Regions from separate parts of the Homo sapiens genome. Here region 1 is linked to region 2. Evidence: fine-mapped expression QTL. A gene starts in region 2. The other region holds a variant in brackets. All regions are shown on one strand. Distances are between the middles of the regions. Region 1 overlaps LYRM4 (LYR motif containing 4). Region 2 holds the start of LYRM4 (LYR motif containing 4).

What was found.
Region 1: its variant is fine-mapped to the expression of LYRM4 in prefrontal cortex (ROSMAP, PIP 0.95).

Annotation. Positions count from the first base shown.
Region 1 is chr6:5,132,871-5,141,205 of GRCh38, reverse strand. All of the region lies in intron 2 of LYRM4 (LYR motif containing 4), which reads left to right. The region is part of intron 3 of LYRM4-AS1 (LYRM4 antisense RNA 1); the gene reads right to left. Among named protein-coding and RNA genes, the nearest start is that of MIR3691, 11 kb to the left of the region's middle. RefSeq lists a silencer at 1,357-1,651. The variant A/G (reference allele first, on the strand shown) is at 3,738.
Region 2 is chr6:5,257,130-5,265,464 of GRCh38, reverse strand. It overlaps LYRM4 (LYR motif containing 4), which reads left to right and starts at 4,515. Exons shown (of 3, transcript NM_020408.6): 1 at 4,515-4,817. The coding sequence starts at 4,732. It overlaps FARS2 (phenylalanyl-tRNA synthetase 2, mitochondrial), which reads right to left and starts at 3,952. Exons shown (of 7, transcript NM_006567.5): 1 at 3,805-3,952. RefSeq lists silencers at 4,435-4,654, 4,715-5,024 and an enhancer at 5,235-5,284.

The DNA.
Region 1 (8,335 bases), 120 kb after region 2:
GACATACCACCCCCATCTCTCCCATCTGCATTATTCCTATGAAGGGCCAGTACCCTCAACAGTGCCATCTTCTTTTTATTTCCACAAATGTGATAAATGCTCAACTTTTGTGAAAGTATAGTTTTTCAAACATGAAAACTAGATTAAAAAGCTGAACATCCAGAATAATTATAACCATAAGGTAGTGGTAGTCATGATCACACACAGAGGCTCTTGGTCTGATTTCTACAGAGAGAAACAATGCTTGAATACTTGTAGAACTGGACACCTGAACAACAAGTTGGAAGGCTTTTAAATCCATTTGGTTGGTTATTTAGGAGGTGGAAGTGGCATAAGGAAGGCAGTACTGCTCACAGTCTAGGAAAAAGGAAAGTCTACGTTTTGGTTTCAGTTCGTGTTACCTCTTTTATTTTTCATAGTGGCAAAATATACGTAACATAAAGTTTACCTTCTTAACCATTTTTCAGCATGTATGTTACATTTTTAACATGCTTTTGTTGAATGGTTAAGAATCTAGGAAATGATAAGCCTTACATGTTCCCAAGTGCAGATCAAGTTGAAGCACAAATTGACTTTCCCGAGCCCAACTCCAGGTTCCAGAAACGGGATCCTCAGCCACACACTGTGCATACCTGTAATGCACTTAAGTACTTTCTACTTGTAAAGTACAGAGAGCACATCATAGTTTGTCTAAACCTTTGTGTTGGTGTCCTTCAACGCCACAGCCTTATGTACTTTGGAAATACTCATTATACAGGTTTAAATGTTCCTTCCTCCAAACAGATTTTTTCAATCTTTTCAAATTTTAGTTAAGCTTTATTTTTTTTTAAGTATTGTTAAAAGACAAACCTTAGACAAAGTAAATTTAACCAAGTTTAACTGAGCAAATAACACTTTGCAAATCAGGCAGCCTGTGAACCAGAATAGGCTCACAGAGGTTCCAGCACAGTCACGTGGTGAAAGGTTTTTTTTTCTTTTGAGACAGGGTCTCGCTCTGTTGCCCAGGCTGGGAGGCAGTGGTGCGATCACGGCTCACTGCAGCCTGGGACTCCCAGGCTTAAGTGATCTTCCCACCTAAGCCTCCCAAGTAGCTGGGACAGGCACAGCACCATGCCCCACTAATTTTTGTATTTTGGGGAGGACAGGGTCTCACCATGTTTTCCAGGCTGGTCTCGAACTCCTGGGCACGAGTGATCCACCTGCCTCAGCCTGGGAATTGGTGGTGTGCTTGTCCCAGCTGCTTGGGAGGCTTACGTGGGAGGATCGCTTCAGCCTGGGAGGCCAAAGCTGCAGTGAGCCGTGATCACACCACTGCCCCCCAGCCTGGGCAACAGAGCAAGACCCTGTCTCAAAAAAAAAAAAGAAAAAAGTGCTGGGGTCACAGGCATGACCCACCACGCCCCAGCCTGGAAGAAAAATTATAGGCAAAAAAAGGAAAGTGATGTACGGAAAATGGAAATGAGGTGCTAAAACAGCCAGATTGGCGACAGTTCAGTTGTTTGCCTTATTTGAGCACAGTTTGAACAATTGGCTGCCTATAGCCAAAGCTCAGTGATCAGCACAAGAGTAGATTATAGTCTGTGTACACATCCAGTTAGGTTACAGTTCACTGCATACACAGAAACCTTTAAAATATGTAAAGAGGCAGCTTTAGGCCAAACTTAATTTAACAATATCTTGTTAATATTAAACACAATCATAGCAAAAGTGTCGAAAACCAGTCAAGTGCTACTGTTTTAAATCGAGCCAAACATTAACTTTTATCTGATACTCCTCATTGTCCTACTCCAGTTTGTATTTGTAAATACAGTGTGACCTGTGTCATGAATGAACCTTAATATTCTGTTGCCTAACTTTGAATGAAGCCTGCGCCTTCGTTGGTCAGAGTTCTGGATATGATATGCTCACCATGTTTCCAGAGTTGCTGGTATTTCTCCAGTTAGCGAGGTGGAAATGCAGCGGTGCCTGGGAAGATCAGAGGCACTGGGCTGGCAGGCCTGCTTTGCCCTGCCGCTCACCAGCTATTGTCATTCAGAACAAGCTACTTATGCTCTCCAGGCCTGTCTTCTTCTCCCTACCGCAGAGATGTCAAAACCTATTTCCAGAGAGTGTTAACAAGGACGACATTCAATTACATCTACAAAGTACCTAGCATAAGTGCCTAGAACATAGTAGGTACTCAACGAACATCAATATTACTCTTCTTTTGAGATCAAATTCTCTTAGGCTTATGTGCAACAATCACTTTGAAGTCCTCTGATTGCTCGAAAGACTTTCTTTAAGACTTCAAAGTATTAACCTGATTGTGAAGAGCAAAATGTCTATGTCTAAAGGATTAATCTCATTTCTAGCTTTTAACCTGTCTTAAACACCTCTAGCACTTGCTTCTGTTTGAAATCCCAAAGAACTCTTTCTTTCTGTTAACTGTTACTCTTAACTTTTATTTTTTTCTCTTTTTACCCCCAGGCATAAAGTCCATAGTCATTGTCTGCCACCAGGTTTGTTTTCTATTGCATCTTGATATTTTCTTGTGTTTTCAGTGGGGAGCATGTTAGAATTCCTTAATATACAGATGTCATAGTATATAAGGTTTTCTTGTGACTTAGTCTGGAAATCATTCATAAAAAAAACAGTCATTATTCTTACTGGCTACTGATAAAAATTCTTTAAGTAAGAAAAACTATCGATTTTTTTTTTTTTTTTTTTTTTTTTTTTTTTGGAGACAGGGTCTCACTCTGTTGGCCCAGGCTGAAGTACAGTTGGCATGATTACGGCTCTCCGCAGCCTCAACCTCCCCAGCCTCAGGTGATCCTCCCACCTCAGCCTCCCGAGTAGTTGGGACTACAGGCGTGTGCCACCATGCCCAGTTAGTTTCTGTATTGTTTGTAGAGACAGGGTTTTGTCATGTTGCCCAGGCTGGTCTCAAACTCCTAGGCTCAAGCAGTCTGCCCATCTTGGCCTCCCAAAGTGCTGGGATTACAGGTGTGCACTACCACACCTGGCCTTTGAATATCTTCTATATATAAAATCTTGGCAGAAATGTCTTCTTTTGTCATCATGAAATTTACTTTCATGAATCCTCCTCAGTGCCCCTTGTCTACCATTAGTCTTTATAGAATCCTTTTTGACCTGCTGAAAGACAGCACCATTGTATTTTTCTTTGCAACTTGTGGAGCCACCACCTTCCCCAGTACGTTTTGACCAAAGGCAAAGTGAACTCTGCACCACCTCAGGCCTCTGAGTAACACAGTGGAAAGGGGTGAGAAGACTTGGCTATTGTGGTTTGCAAAAATGGCAGGATGAATGCTCCATATCCTCCCTCAAAAATACATTCACATGAGGATAATTTGGGTGGTGGGCCACAGGCAGCTTGCAAGGACAAAGCCTGTCAACTCTTACTCCAGTGTGTGACCTGAGTGGAGATGTCTACAAAAGAGCAGGAATCCTGTCTTTGAGAATAGGGCAACAATCAACTGGGTGGTTTTAATTATTCAGATAGAGTCACAGGACATTAGATGCAGAATATTAAAATCTCCATCATTCAGGGGAAATGATCTTAAATACAGATAGAGGCATATCACTAGCCGGGTAGCAGAGTCATTATTTAAAGGACACTAGAGTTCCTCTGTGAGGAGGAACTGAGCTCAAAGAAGATGTTCAGTATCAATGCAGTGAGATTACAGAGTACAAATCTGAACACCTTTGTAAGCTTCTCACTAAGTGGAGGAGTGGGGCCA[A/G]CTCCAGGAGCTTGGTTTTTGCTTGTCTGAGAATCTCTTGACAGGTCCTAGAAGCAACCATTCTATGTTGGGGCTTAAAAAGAAGAGGTAGTGTGATCCAGCAATCCCACCCCTACATGTATACTCAAGAGAAATGAAAACGTGTCCACACAAAGACTTATATGCAAATATTTATTGAAACCTTATTAGCAATAGCCAAAAAGTGGAAACAACCCAGATGGCCATCAGATAATAAATGGATGAGCAACATGTGGTATAGCCATACAATAAAAATATTATTGGTGGTAAAACGGAACCAAGTACTGATACATGCTAGAACACGGATGGCCCTTGAGAACATTATGCTACGGGAAAGAAGCCAGACACAAAAAGTCACGCATTGTGTGATTTCGTTTCTGTGAAATGGCCAAAATAGGCAAATGCATCGAGACAGAAAGTGGGTTAGCGGTTGCCAGGGGCTAGAGAGGATGGGACATTTGAAAGGCGACTAATGAGTAGTGTTTCCTTGGGGGTAATGAAAATGCTCTAAAATTGATTGTGGTAATGGATGCACAACTGTGAATATACTAAAAACCATTGAATTGTACACTTTAATTGGATAGATTTGATGGTGTATGAATTATATCTCCATAAAGCTGTTAAGAGACATCAGGAAGAGACCAGAGTTTCTTCTGTGCGGAGCCCTCTGCCACAGGAAAGGAAGGAAGTCTACCCAGTCTTCCTACAGGCGCTGCTCCTTGGGGCGGTTTAGCATGTCATTACCACAGACTGTGGCTAGGACCTGTGGGACTCATTTGTAAATGCCACCTTCTTTGACAACACCTGGGATTGTTGAAATGGAAGTAATCGATTACTAGAAGCCATTAATTGAAAGCTGTGTGCCAGGCATTGTAGTAAGACATTATAAATACCATCTAACTTATGTAAAATTGACATTATCCCATTCTGTAGGTAAGGAAACTGAGACTACAGGGTTAGGTGAAACCCAAGGTTTCGGAGCCAGTGATTGGCAGAGCAGGTGTTTAAACCAGGTTTGTCTTGGGACAAACCCCAGGCTCTTAAGTACTACATTATCGTGTCTTCCCGCTTCTCCACCCTCAACCCAGCCCCAGTCAAAAAGGCAGCAGGAAAGGGGACAAGTTATCATTTAGAAGAATACTGATTTGGTTTTAAAAGTATTGAATAGAATGACCAAATGATCTAGTGATTCCATTTCTCAGTATATACCCCAGAGAACTGAAAGCAGGGACTCAAAAGGATACTTGCCCACCAGTGTTCAGAGCAGTATTATTCACAACAGCAACCCAGTGTCCCTCAACAGACGCCTGGATGAACAAAATGTGGTACAGCCGTACAATGGAATGTTACTCAGCCCTAAAGAGGAAGGAAATTCCGCCACACGCCACAGCAAGGGTGAACCTTGACGACATTGTCCTAAGTGAAATAAGCCATAGAAGAAACAAATGCTGTATGATTCCACTTACGGCGGTCCCTAGAGTCCCCCTACAGACGGAAAGTAGAATTGCGGTTGCCAAGGACTGGAGGGGAGGGAGAATGGAGAGTTAGTGTTTAATGGCTACAGGGTTTCAGTGGAGGAAAATGAAAAGATTCTGGAGAAGGATGCTGTTGATGGTTGTACAACAATGTGAATGTACTTAATGCCACAGAGCTGTACACTTAAAATGAATAAAATGATAAATGTTGTGTTTTGTGTATTTAACACACACACATACACATCAGTATTGTGTGTGTTTGAAAGTCTAGAGCTAGAAAGCTTTTTTGAGTATATTTAGCAGGAAAACTTAAAAGAAAGTTCTCGTCTTTGGAGGAGACAGGCCTGAGGCATCCAGAGGAAATGAACACCACCTAGGGAGCCAGTTCCATTCCCATGAAAATCACACCTGGAGCGATCCGCACCCTCCACAGCCCCAGGAGCGATCCGCACCCTCCACAGTCCCGGGAGTGAACCGCACCCTCCACAGCCCCAGGAGCGATCCGCACCCTCCACAGTCCCGGGAGTGAACCGCACCCTCCACAGCCCCGGGAGTGAACCGCACCCTCCACAGCCCCGGGAGAGAACCGCACCCTCCACAGCCCCGGGAGCGATCCGCACCCTCCACAGTCCCGGGAGCGATCCGCACCCTCCACAGTCCCGGGAGTGAACCGCACCCTCCACAGCCCCAGGAGCGATCCGCACCCTCCACAGTCCCGGGAGTGAACCGCACCCTCCACAGCCCCGGGAGTGAACCGCACCCTCCACAGCCCCGGGAGTGAACCGCACCCTCCACAGCCCCGGGAGAGAACCGCACCCTCCACAGCCCCGGGAGCGATCCGCACCCTCCACAGTCCCGGGAGCGATCCGCACCCTCCACAGTCCCGGGAGTGAACCGCACCCTCCACAGTCCCGGGAGCGATCCGCACCCTCCACAGCCCCGGGAGCGATCCGCACCCTCCACAGCCCCGGGAGCGATCCGCACCCTCCACAGCCCCGGGAGCGATCCGCACCCTCCACAGTCCCGGGAGTGATCCGCACCCTCCACAGTCCCAGGAGTGAACCGCACCCTCCACAGCCCTAGGAGTGCCGTTACCAAGGGAGAGGAAGGAGAAGGAATAGGGATGAGATCTCTTAAATAGACATTTGATGACATTTTCCCCAATTTGTTAGTTGCAATGACGAAGACTTTTTGCTGTTTAACCTGTTATTATGGAAAAATGTGAAAATATACAAAAGTATGTAGAATTGTCAAATGAGTCCTGTGTATCCATCACCCATCTTTAAGAGTTAGATACTCTGTAATATCAATAGATGGTATTTTTCATCCTTACGCCTACCCATGCTCTCCCGTATTGTTTTGAGAAACTGTGTATTCGTTTTCATATTAAACTATTTTGGTACATATCTGAAAAGATGATTCTTTTTAAAACATAGCTATGATACCGTTATCATAACTAACAAAATAATGCTAATTCCTTAATATCATCAAATACAAAGTGTTTAAATTTTAATGTCTCACAAATATCACCAATCTTCAAACTGGGTGATCTGTCTGTAATCTGTCTTTAAAAGAAATCTATAGGCCCCATCTGTATCTTTTTTTCTTCCTTGCTCTTCTTTTTCCTTATAATTTATTTGCTGAAGAAGTCAGTTCTTTTGTCTGGATTTTGCTGATTTTATCTTGGTTTTCTTGCTTATCTTACATAAAAACTGAAAGCTCTATCTTAACCAACTAGGTTCTTAGCCTTGGCCAGACATTACACTCACCTGGGAAGCTTGTAAAATCCTGACATGTGTGGAAAGCAGCTTGTCACTTCCTCAATAAGTTAAACATAGAATTACCATATGACCCAGCAATTTCACTCCAAAAGAATGGAAACAGGTTCAGACACAGTCTTGTATTCGTATGTTCACAGCAGCACTATTTTCAATAGCCAAAAGATGGAAACAACCCAAATATCCTTCAGCTGAGGAAAGGGTCAACAATATGTGGTATTTCCACGCAATGGAATATTATTCATCCTTAGAAGTCACAAAGTACTCATGCGTGTTTACAACCTGGATGAACCTTGAAAACACTGCGGTAAATGAAAGAAGCCTGACACAAAAGCCACATATTATATGATTTCATCTGCATGTCTACGGAAACCCATAGAAACAGAACATAGATTAGTGGTTGCCAGAGGCTGGGAAAATAAGAAAACAGGGAGGGGCTGCTTAATGAGTATGGGGTTTCCTTTTGGGGGTGATGAAAATTTCCAGAACTAAATAGTGTTGATGATTGTACAGTTATGAAGGTACTTAATACCACTGAATTACGCACTTTGAAGTGGTTTAAATGATTTTATGTTATGTGAACTTTACCACAATTTTTTATAATTCTGATGTATAAAAACACCCCAGACCAAGTAATTAATAATCTCTTAAGTGTGACCCGAGCATCAGAATATTCTAAAGCCCTCCAAGGGATGCCAGTGTACACGCAAGGTTTGGAATCATTGACAGAGGCTGGACGGGTCAGGATCGTGTCTTTGGAGCCTTCCTCACAGGTGGTGGTGGCGTGCTAGATTTAAGCCCGTGCAAGTTTGCTTCTGTATTCTAAAGGATAACTATGTCTTTTGCACTCCTGTCAGACAGCAGACGCTGTCAGGAATCTGCTGCCTACAGTCACAAAAAATGTTCTCTCCTTTTTTAGAAAATAAAATTTAGGAAAACCTAAGAAGAAAACGATCGATCATCTTGATTTTGCTTTTATGTGAGAGGAAAGAGCCCTCTGTTTCTAGCTACCATATAGATGTGTAAAACAGTGCCACCCATAGCCTCACCCGTGAGATGGCAGCACGGGGACAAGTGGCCCTCAGGCTGCCCAGCACACACACCCTGCCCAACACAACAACAGTAACAAAAAGAGACAAAGTAACCAGTCCTGATTCCTTGGGGAGGCGGGCGAACCTTCTCTAGTCATCTTTGTCCTGCAGTGGCTGGTGCTGCCGTCATACCCGTAGAATCTCAGCAGTGCGTGCTTCCCTACCCTGGGAAGGAAATGTCATTTCCTTGCAAGACTCACTTCTCATGAGCACTGATAGGCCACAGCTGCTGCTGG
Region 2 (8,335 bases):
ACTTATATAACTCAGCCAATGCATAAGGGAAGAAATGATTTATTCCAGACAGAGAGAAAACATCACTAAAATAAAGCTAGTACAGGGCTAAACACTTCAGTGGTCCCTCCCTTCCCACCTCCTACCATTCTAAAACACTTAAGAGTTCTCTAAATAGATCAAGCACCCTTCTTCCTCCATGCTTGGATATACACTGCAATCTTTAACCACATTCCTCATCTGGCTTTTACTTCTCATTCTGGAAACACCTTCTACGATGGAAAGCCTTCCCATAGGTGAAACTCCTGGTTCAATATTCCTCTTCCCTATTCCTTTAGCGTTTACTAATATTACTCATATCGCAGCAACTGTCAAAAAGAAATTATTGGCCAAGTGCCACGACTCACAGCTATAATCTGAGCTCTTTGGGAAGCCAAGACAGGAGAGGCACTGAGGAGTTTGAGACCACCCTGGACATCATAGTGAAATCTCATCTCTACAAAAAAAAAAAAAAACACTTAAAAATCTGCCAGGCATGGTGGCATGAGCCTATAGGCCTAGCTACTCAGGAGGCTGAGGCAGGAAAATCACTTCAGCACGGGAGTTTGAAGTTACAACGAGATATGATAGCACTACTGCACTCCAGCTTAGTAAACAGAGACCCTGTCTCTATAAAATAAATTATTGTTTCGCTTATCTAGTCACCTACAAGTTTCTTAGGGGTGGGGAAGCTCTCATCACTGTGACTATATCATCTTATATAATATATGGTACTTATGGGCCGGGCGCGGTGGCTCACGCCTGTAATCCCCACACTTTGGGAGGCCAAGGCAGCTGGATCACCTGAGGTCAGGAGTTCAAGAAAAGCCTGGACAACATGGTGAAACTCCATCTCTACTAAAAATACAAAAAATTAGCCGGACGAGATTGCACCATTGCACTCCAGCCTGAGAAACAAGAGTGAAACTCTGTCTCAAAAAAAAAAAAAAAGAAAAAAGAAAAGAAAAACCATAACCTATAGTACTTAGGAAGTGTTCAATAAATGCTGAAGGAATGAACGAATGAGGAAAAAGTCTTCAGTTTGTTCATCTGTACAAATGAATGAGTTGATATCTAAGGTCTTCCCCCTTCCCCTTCGTGTTCTATTAAAATGAAGGATCAATGTATAATACTTGGATTCATGTGTGGTGTAGAATAGAATAATTTCTTTTTGTTGTTGTTGTTGTTTTTTCTTTTTGGTAGACAGGGTCTCACTCTGTTGCCCAGGCTACAGAGCAGTAATGTGATCATGGCTCAATGCAGCCTCAACCTCCAGGGCTCAAGCAATCCTCCCACCTCAGCCTCCCAAGTAGCTGGGACTACAGGCACATGCCACCACACCCAGTTAATTTTTGTATTTTTTGTGTAGAGGTGAGGTTTCGCTATGATGTATTTTTTGTATAGATGGGGTTTTGCCATGTTGCCCAGGCTGGTCTCAAACTCCTGGGCTCAAGCAATCCACCTGCCTCAACCTCCCAAAGTGCTGGGATTACAGGTGTGAGCCACCATGCCCAGCTGAACAATTTCTAAATAATATCGTAAGTTACTACTACTATACAAATTTTACTTTATACATCATTTTGATATTTAAGCTTAAGGACAGTAAATTGTTGTTACACTGTTTATTATGATTAGAGAAATTTCTCTTCACAAAGCATTAAGTGGTCATTAACAACCCTAATTTTAATAGAAGGTAACACATGATCTTCCATAAAGAACTACAGGTAGTCGATAACTTTTGATAAATGAATACTAAAGAAATTTTTACGTTTTGATGCCTAAATGGTACCTCCTGTTTTACAGATACTCTCTAAGAAAAATTTCAACCCAGAATAGAATGACTATTAAAGGACGTATGTGTAAGGTCCATTCTTCAGCTTCTGGCCCAAATCTACTTACAATCTCAAATCGAGTTATTTTTTTTAAGTCATCTCCGCAATGAAGATGTGCAAAAGTGAGATGTAGCTACGGAATGATTATTTTCTTTTAGCCTCTCCAGGCAATGATGTCCAACACATTGGTAAACCATTTTAAATAAAATAATAAGGTATTTTTATGAAGACTTGGCTCAGAATTAACTGGGAAGCCTATCACTTTCCTAACTGCAACCATTGCTCGTACTAACAGAGGACTAAGCTACCCAAACTATTTAAACTATACATATTTATTTGGAAAAGTTTTATTTGATTACAACAAAGTTGAGTAATTTAGATACATTAATTATGTACGTTAATGATTAAATTCCTTGATAATTAGGTAGAAACAATTGTATATAGTAATTATTCCAACTTTACTCTCAAAAGCAAAATATAATAAAATAATGTAATCTTTGCTATTTTTAAAAAAGCCAAAATAATCTTCAAGTTTTTCCTTTTCACTCTGATAGCATTCTCTATCAGTAACTTGCATTAATGTTGTAGCTTTGAGGTGCCGCATATCATTTCATATCACTGGCACACAATAGTGTATCAAGAGAAATCAGCTCTGAATCTTACTCTATAACAATGTGCAATTGCCTTGGTCTTGGATCCTTTAAGAAATAGCAAAGGGAAAACTCAAAAAAGTCCTTTCAATAAAGCAGAGGCTAGATTTGCTCAATGACCTGACCAACCAGGAAGTAATAGAAGTTTTGCTATCCTGTTTAAAAAATAATAATAAACAATAACAGACATGAGATTTTCAAGAAATCAGGGAGGAGACTTAAAGATATCTTAATAAAAGTATTTTCTCTTCAGTGCCTTTTAAAAAATGTCATTGCATCAGGATTAGTAAGAATATCTGGATGCAAGGACACCAGGTTGCAAGTACACTAAAGAATGGTAAGGTCAGAGAAGTGTTTTTTCTGCCTTTAAAGTTCCTGAAAATAGAGGCTGGGCGTGATGACTCACACCTGTAATCCCAGCATTTTGGGAGGCCGAGGCGGGCGGATTGCCTGAGGTCAGGAGTTCGAGACCAGCCTGACCAACATGGTGAAACCCTGTCTCTACTAAAAATACAAAAATTAGCTGGGCGAGGTAGCGCGCGCCTGTAATCCCAGCCACTCAGGAGGCTGAGGCAGGAGAATGGCTTGAACCTGGGAGGCATAGGTTGCAGTGAGCCCGAGATCCCGCCACTGCACTCCAGCCTGGGCGACAGAGCGAGACTCCATCTCAAAAAAAAGAAAAGGAAACAGAAAAGTTCCTGAAAATATAAAGTTGTTTAGACATACAGCAGGTATATCGTTTCAAAACCAAATACACTAAAGCAGATGAGAACACAACCGTGACCAAGTGGTTCGGAGAAAGATGGATTTTAATGCAAAGTTGTTTTGTTTTCACGCATAACGTACTTCTCGCTGTGCTTGAGTGCAGAAAGGTGTGGTTCTTCCTAAGGTTGATTACATAAAGCAAGATTCCAAAAACAAGAAAAGTGCTTTGCAAACACAGTAACTAGGACTGGCTGAAGCTTCCTGCGTCCAGTGCCATGCTCAAAGATCAGAACAAGCAACTTTATCCACCACTTTAATAAGATGATTCAAAAAAGCTGCAGTCTTCTGAAGAAAGCCATGGTTGAAAACTTGCTCCGCTTCTTGGAGAAAGCCTAAAGCCCTAAAGGTCTCTAATTATTCTCCAAAGTCTACAACCCAAGCTGCATTTTATGCATTTATTAGGTTACAAAACCACGGGAACTCTTCACTCAAAAGCAAAAACACATCCGGAAAGAGGAAAAAATCCACGGCCAATGTAAACCCCCTACAACACCAACCGCCCACGTCGTACCCCAGGCTGCAATGAGGCCGGCACTCACCCACCGCTCGCCCGGGAAGCCCAGACCCAGGTGTTTCAAAATCAGAAGTACGGCAGGCTCGTTCGCTCTCACGGGCAAGAATCTTAAACCCCAACTTCAGAGATACCCGCGCACGCTGGGCGCTGCCATTTTGACAGAAAGCGGGCCTGCCCCAGAGGCCCCTACGCAGGTCGCCCTGAGCAGAGCCGGAGTGCCACAGAACCCCTAGCTCATCACCTCCACACCCAGACGTCGCATCCCCCGGCCTGAGGAATGCCAAGAAACCCCACCCTGCCGACCAGGATCAGGCGAAATCAAGTCACCCTTGAAATCCCGCAAACTCTCTCAGGCAGCGCCGAGGGCGACCGCAGCCGGCGTGGGAGGGGCATCGGCGGTCAGGGGCGGGGCGTCGGTGCGGCGGCCTTCGGTAACCCGGGCAACGCGGCCTCCTGGATGTAGGAAGGGGCGCTGCCCCCGAAACACAAATGTCTCCGCCAAGACCCCAGACGGTTCCCAAAGGCTCTCCGTGATGCAACTGCACGTCCCTCGAATGCCTGGGCCTCCGATATCCGTCCGCCAGGAGCTTGGCTGGATGCACGGGCGGCCAGTCCTCTTATTTCCCCGCCCTCCCGCCGCGTGGAGCGGCTGCTGGGTCCCGAGCCTCCGGGCGGGGGCGGGATCGGGGCGGGGCGGAGGCATCTCCCTCCCAGCACCGCCCCCTTAGCTGCCCCGAGCCCTGCCTGCGCCCGCCCCCGAAGCGGCGCGGGACGCCTGGCGCCGTCCGCGATCCGCAGGGCTGCCCGCTTAGGCTTAGGCCCGGCCCGCTGGCAAAGCCGAGCCGCAGCATTTTATTTCGTTCGTGGTTTCCGCACAGGCTGGAGTTTCGTGGGTTGGGTCGTACTTGGGACCTCGGCGAAGAGGACCCGTTTATTTTTTTTTCTTTCCAAAATGGCAGCCTCCAGTCGCGCACAAGTGTTATCTCTGTACCGGGCGATGCTGAGAGAGAGCAAGCGTTTCAGCGCCTACAATTACAGGTGACCCAGCGGGCACCGGGGGCCGGGGGCGGGGGGCCAGGGGCCGGGGACCGGGGGTGCGGGCTGACGCGGAATATCCCCGGGGACTGGGAGCCACCGTGGTTTGCCGGCGGCTGCGAGGCAAGGACCGGGCTCCGCCATCGAAAAGCGTGCTCCTGCCTACAGGTGTGGCCTCTGAGACCTCGGGGAGGAGCCTTTCTTTCTACCAGGGGAGACGTTCATGTCTTGTGACGTTTTCCCCCTAAAGGCTATCTTGGTAGTTATTCTAGGAGCATGATTAGTGTTATGTTTCTGCAGAAGAGAAAAAAGGGATGGAAATCAGTCATTTGTGAAGTTAAGGCCAGTGTGTTGCATATGTAAAACTTCCCTTGAGCACTGGAAGAGTTGAGAGTGGAAGTGGCCAGTGAGTAGTACACTGCGACAAAGCTGAAGGCACACTCTAGCACCTCCCTAAAATTTCCTAGGTGTCGTAATGAGTTCTTTTGGTTGCAAGAATCCATTCTATTTAGGGTATGGTGGAAATGCGTAGCGGAAAAGGAAAAAGGGTCTCACAAGCTTTGGAGCTGAAACCTCAGTTTCTCCTGGCTCACCAGACAGAGATCCCGCTTACTGGACCTTGACAGCAGGATATTGAGGGCCTAAACTCACATCTTTAATATAACACATTCACTTTTTCTCACGCCTCCCCACTCCCCTATTTGCCTATGAGTCTTTTATTGTTACTCTTTGTATGTTTTTTCTAATTCAGAGCCTCTGCTTTCACAGTGTTGCTGGTTCTGACCCATCATTTTCTTATGGATTCTCTCTCTGCATTTTTTTTTAGATTTGTTTTTTGTTTTGTTTTGTTTTTACTAACTACCTGTCTCTCTCTGAGTTTGAGCCATATTCCCATGAGAAAGAATCTGGTTGGATCAACTCATCTCTTTACCTCAAGCCTCACTTAGGTGACTGGCCAGACTGTGGATTGGATGTCATAAGAGCAGAGCCTACCCTTGGAACACACCTGGTTAGGTAGGCCCCCCTCCAGCACGTGTGTGAGCTGGCAGGCCCTGAGATGGGTCTGCCCAGTACAACCTCTGTCAGAGGACAGGAACGCTAAGCCTCTTAAGCAATGACTCTCAAATTTTTAGAAACCCGCCTGGAAAATATACTCATGCTGCAAATTTGAAAACAGCATCTGGGTCATACCACTGAGGTTGTATCCACCCAGTTAAGTGGTTAAATTTCACGGGAGAGAATGATTTTACTTAATGACTTTGACTTTGGAGAATAAAGAGTGTAATAATAAGCATACTGGTGGAATTTTAGCAAGAATTAACCAAACACCTAGCACCAAGTACTTAACCAAGTCTGTTGAGGAAACACATGAAATATGCAAGTTAAATAAATAGAAACCATTTGATTTCACCATAGTCTGGAGTAAAATAGTTTGTCATTAAAGCTTACTCAGGATACACAAGGACTTGGAATCAGCAGGCAGTTCACACACTAAGGAAAGTGGCAGGGAGAGGGTTTATGTGAGAGCATGTAAGAAAGTCAAGGTGGAGCCCTCGAAGACTAACTTGGACAAGTCTCTCAATCTCTGTATTTCAGTTTTCTTGTTTATGAAATAGACTGTTGGACTAGACAATCTCTAAGGACCCTTCCATTTCTGAAATTCTCTTTGGAAATGATTTATGAGCAAATGAGGCCCAAGCGTTTTCAAATGAGTAATTGCCAACTGAACAGGAAAATCATTCACGAAACTCAACAGGAAAATCATTCAAACTTTAGGAAAATCATTCAAGACTCTACCTGAAAGGCAGAAAATTGAAAATGGGTTTCAGTATGGGCAACTGTAAGATCATATGCATTCAGAAAATAATTGATCAAATTATACCTTAAGCATATACTTTTAAGCTAAATTTACTATCCAAATATAAATATATTATCCAAAGGAATCTGATAATCATTTTATACTGTTACCTGAGATCATAGACCTAAAAACCGACATTCCTGCTATTACCTCCCTAGATAAACTTACTTGTTATAAAAATACGTCCTTTTACATTAAGGCTGTGTCTTGTGAATTTCAGGAAAAGTCCCTTCCCTCCTCTCTAATCTCTGCAGCTGTTTGTCACTGATGGCAAATCAATAGCAACACAACATCCACTATCAATTCTGTGTGCCACTGCTATCTTATGTTCTTCATGTCTATTAACACATTTGTTTTGACAATAATCTTGTGAGGTAGGTACTATTTGTATTACCCTGTAAGGCAACTGAGGCACAGGGAGCTTAAGTTACCTATCAAAACTAACACAGGTAGTGCTGAATAAGCAATCAAAAGCAGACTAGTAAACGTTTTTTAATGACCTGCGAATTGTGCCTTAAGTAATTAGAGTAGTGAAATAAATACTTTGGAACTCTCTTGCAAGACCTATAATATAGGCCACGTTTTGATAGCAGGAGCCCTGTCTGCTCCTCCAGTCTCAGCCTAAGTCCCACATGTGCATCCTGTCCTCTGTCATCATCAGTTGCAGTTTCCTAAATGTGCCACGTCCTGTTGGGCCTCCAGGCCTTTACAAGTACTGTTCTATCCAGCAGGCCCTTTATCACTCCTGTCTAGAGTGCCCCCTCTTCCTTCAAGATTGAGCTCAATTGTCACCTTCTCTGAACAAAAGTTTTCCCAACTCTCTTCATCCCACAGCTTCCACTCCCATCCCTCCCACCAGCCAAACAGGTCTCATTGCTGTGTGTCATTCTTTTACCTCAGTGCTTCTACAAAACATCTCTGAAGCATGCTTTGCCCAGTGCTATATCACAGCTATCCCCAACCTTCTTGGCACCAGGAACCAATTTCATGGAAGACAGTTTTTCCATGGACCGGGTCAAGGGAGGGGATGGTTTCGGGATGAAACTCTTCCACCTCAGATCATCAGGCATTAGATTCTCATAAGGAGCATGCAACCTAGATCACTCACATGCACAGTTCACAATAGGTGCACCTATGAGAATCTAATGCCGCCGCTGATCTGACAGGAGATGGAGCTCAGGCCATAATGCGCACTCACCCACCGCTCAACTGCTGTGTGGCCCGGTTCCTAACAGGCCACGGACCAGTACTGATGGGTTGGGGACCCCTGCTATACCAAGCCCTGGAGAGAGAAAGATGAGATTTTTGAACTAAGCTAGGCACCTGTTATCAATGGCTTTACAGGCCTATGTGGGACACAGGTACAGAGATAGTTGTCACAGACTGGGTTAAGTGCTGTGACAGAAGGATGTACAAGGTGTGGAATCTAGAAGGCCTCCCAAGGGGTGATGTTGGATCAAAGGCATGAAGCAGCTTGGTGTGGTCAGGCAGGCAAACAGCACAGCACTGCCAGGGAGGTAAGTATGATGGGGTTGGGGGGGCGGTGACAGGAAGGCACTGAGGTTGGAGAGGGCCACTGATTTGAGGGCCTGGGGGCCGTGCTGAGGACCCTGGACTTTACCCTTAGCTCACAGGCAGCCACTAACCTGACATGACCAGATTT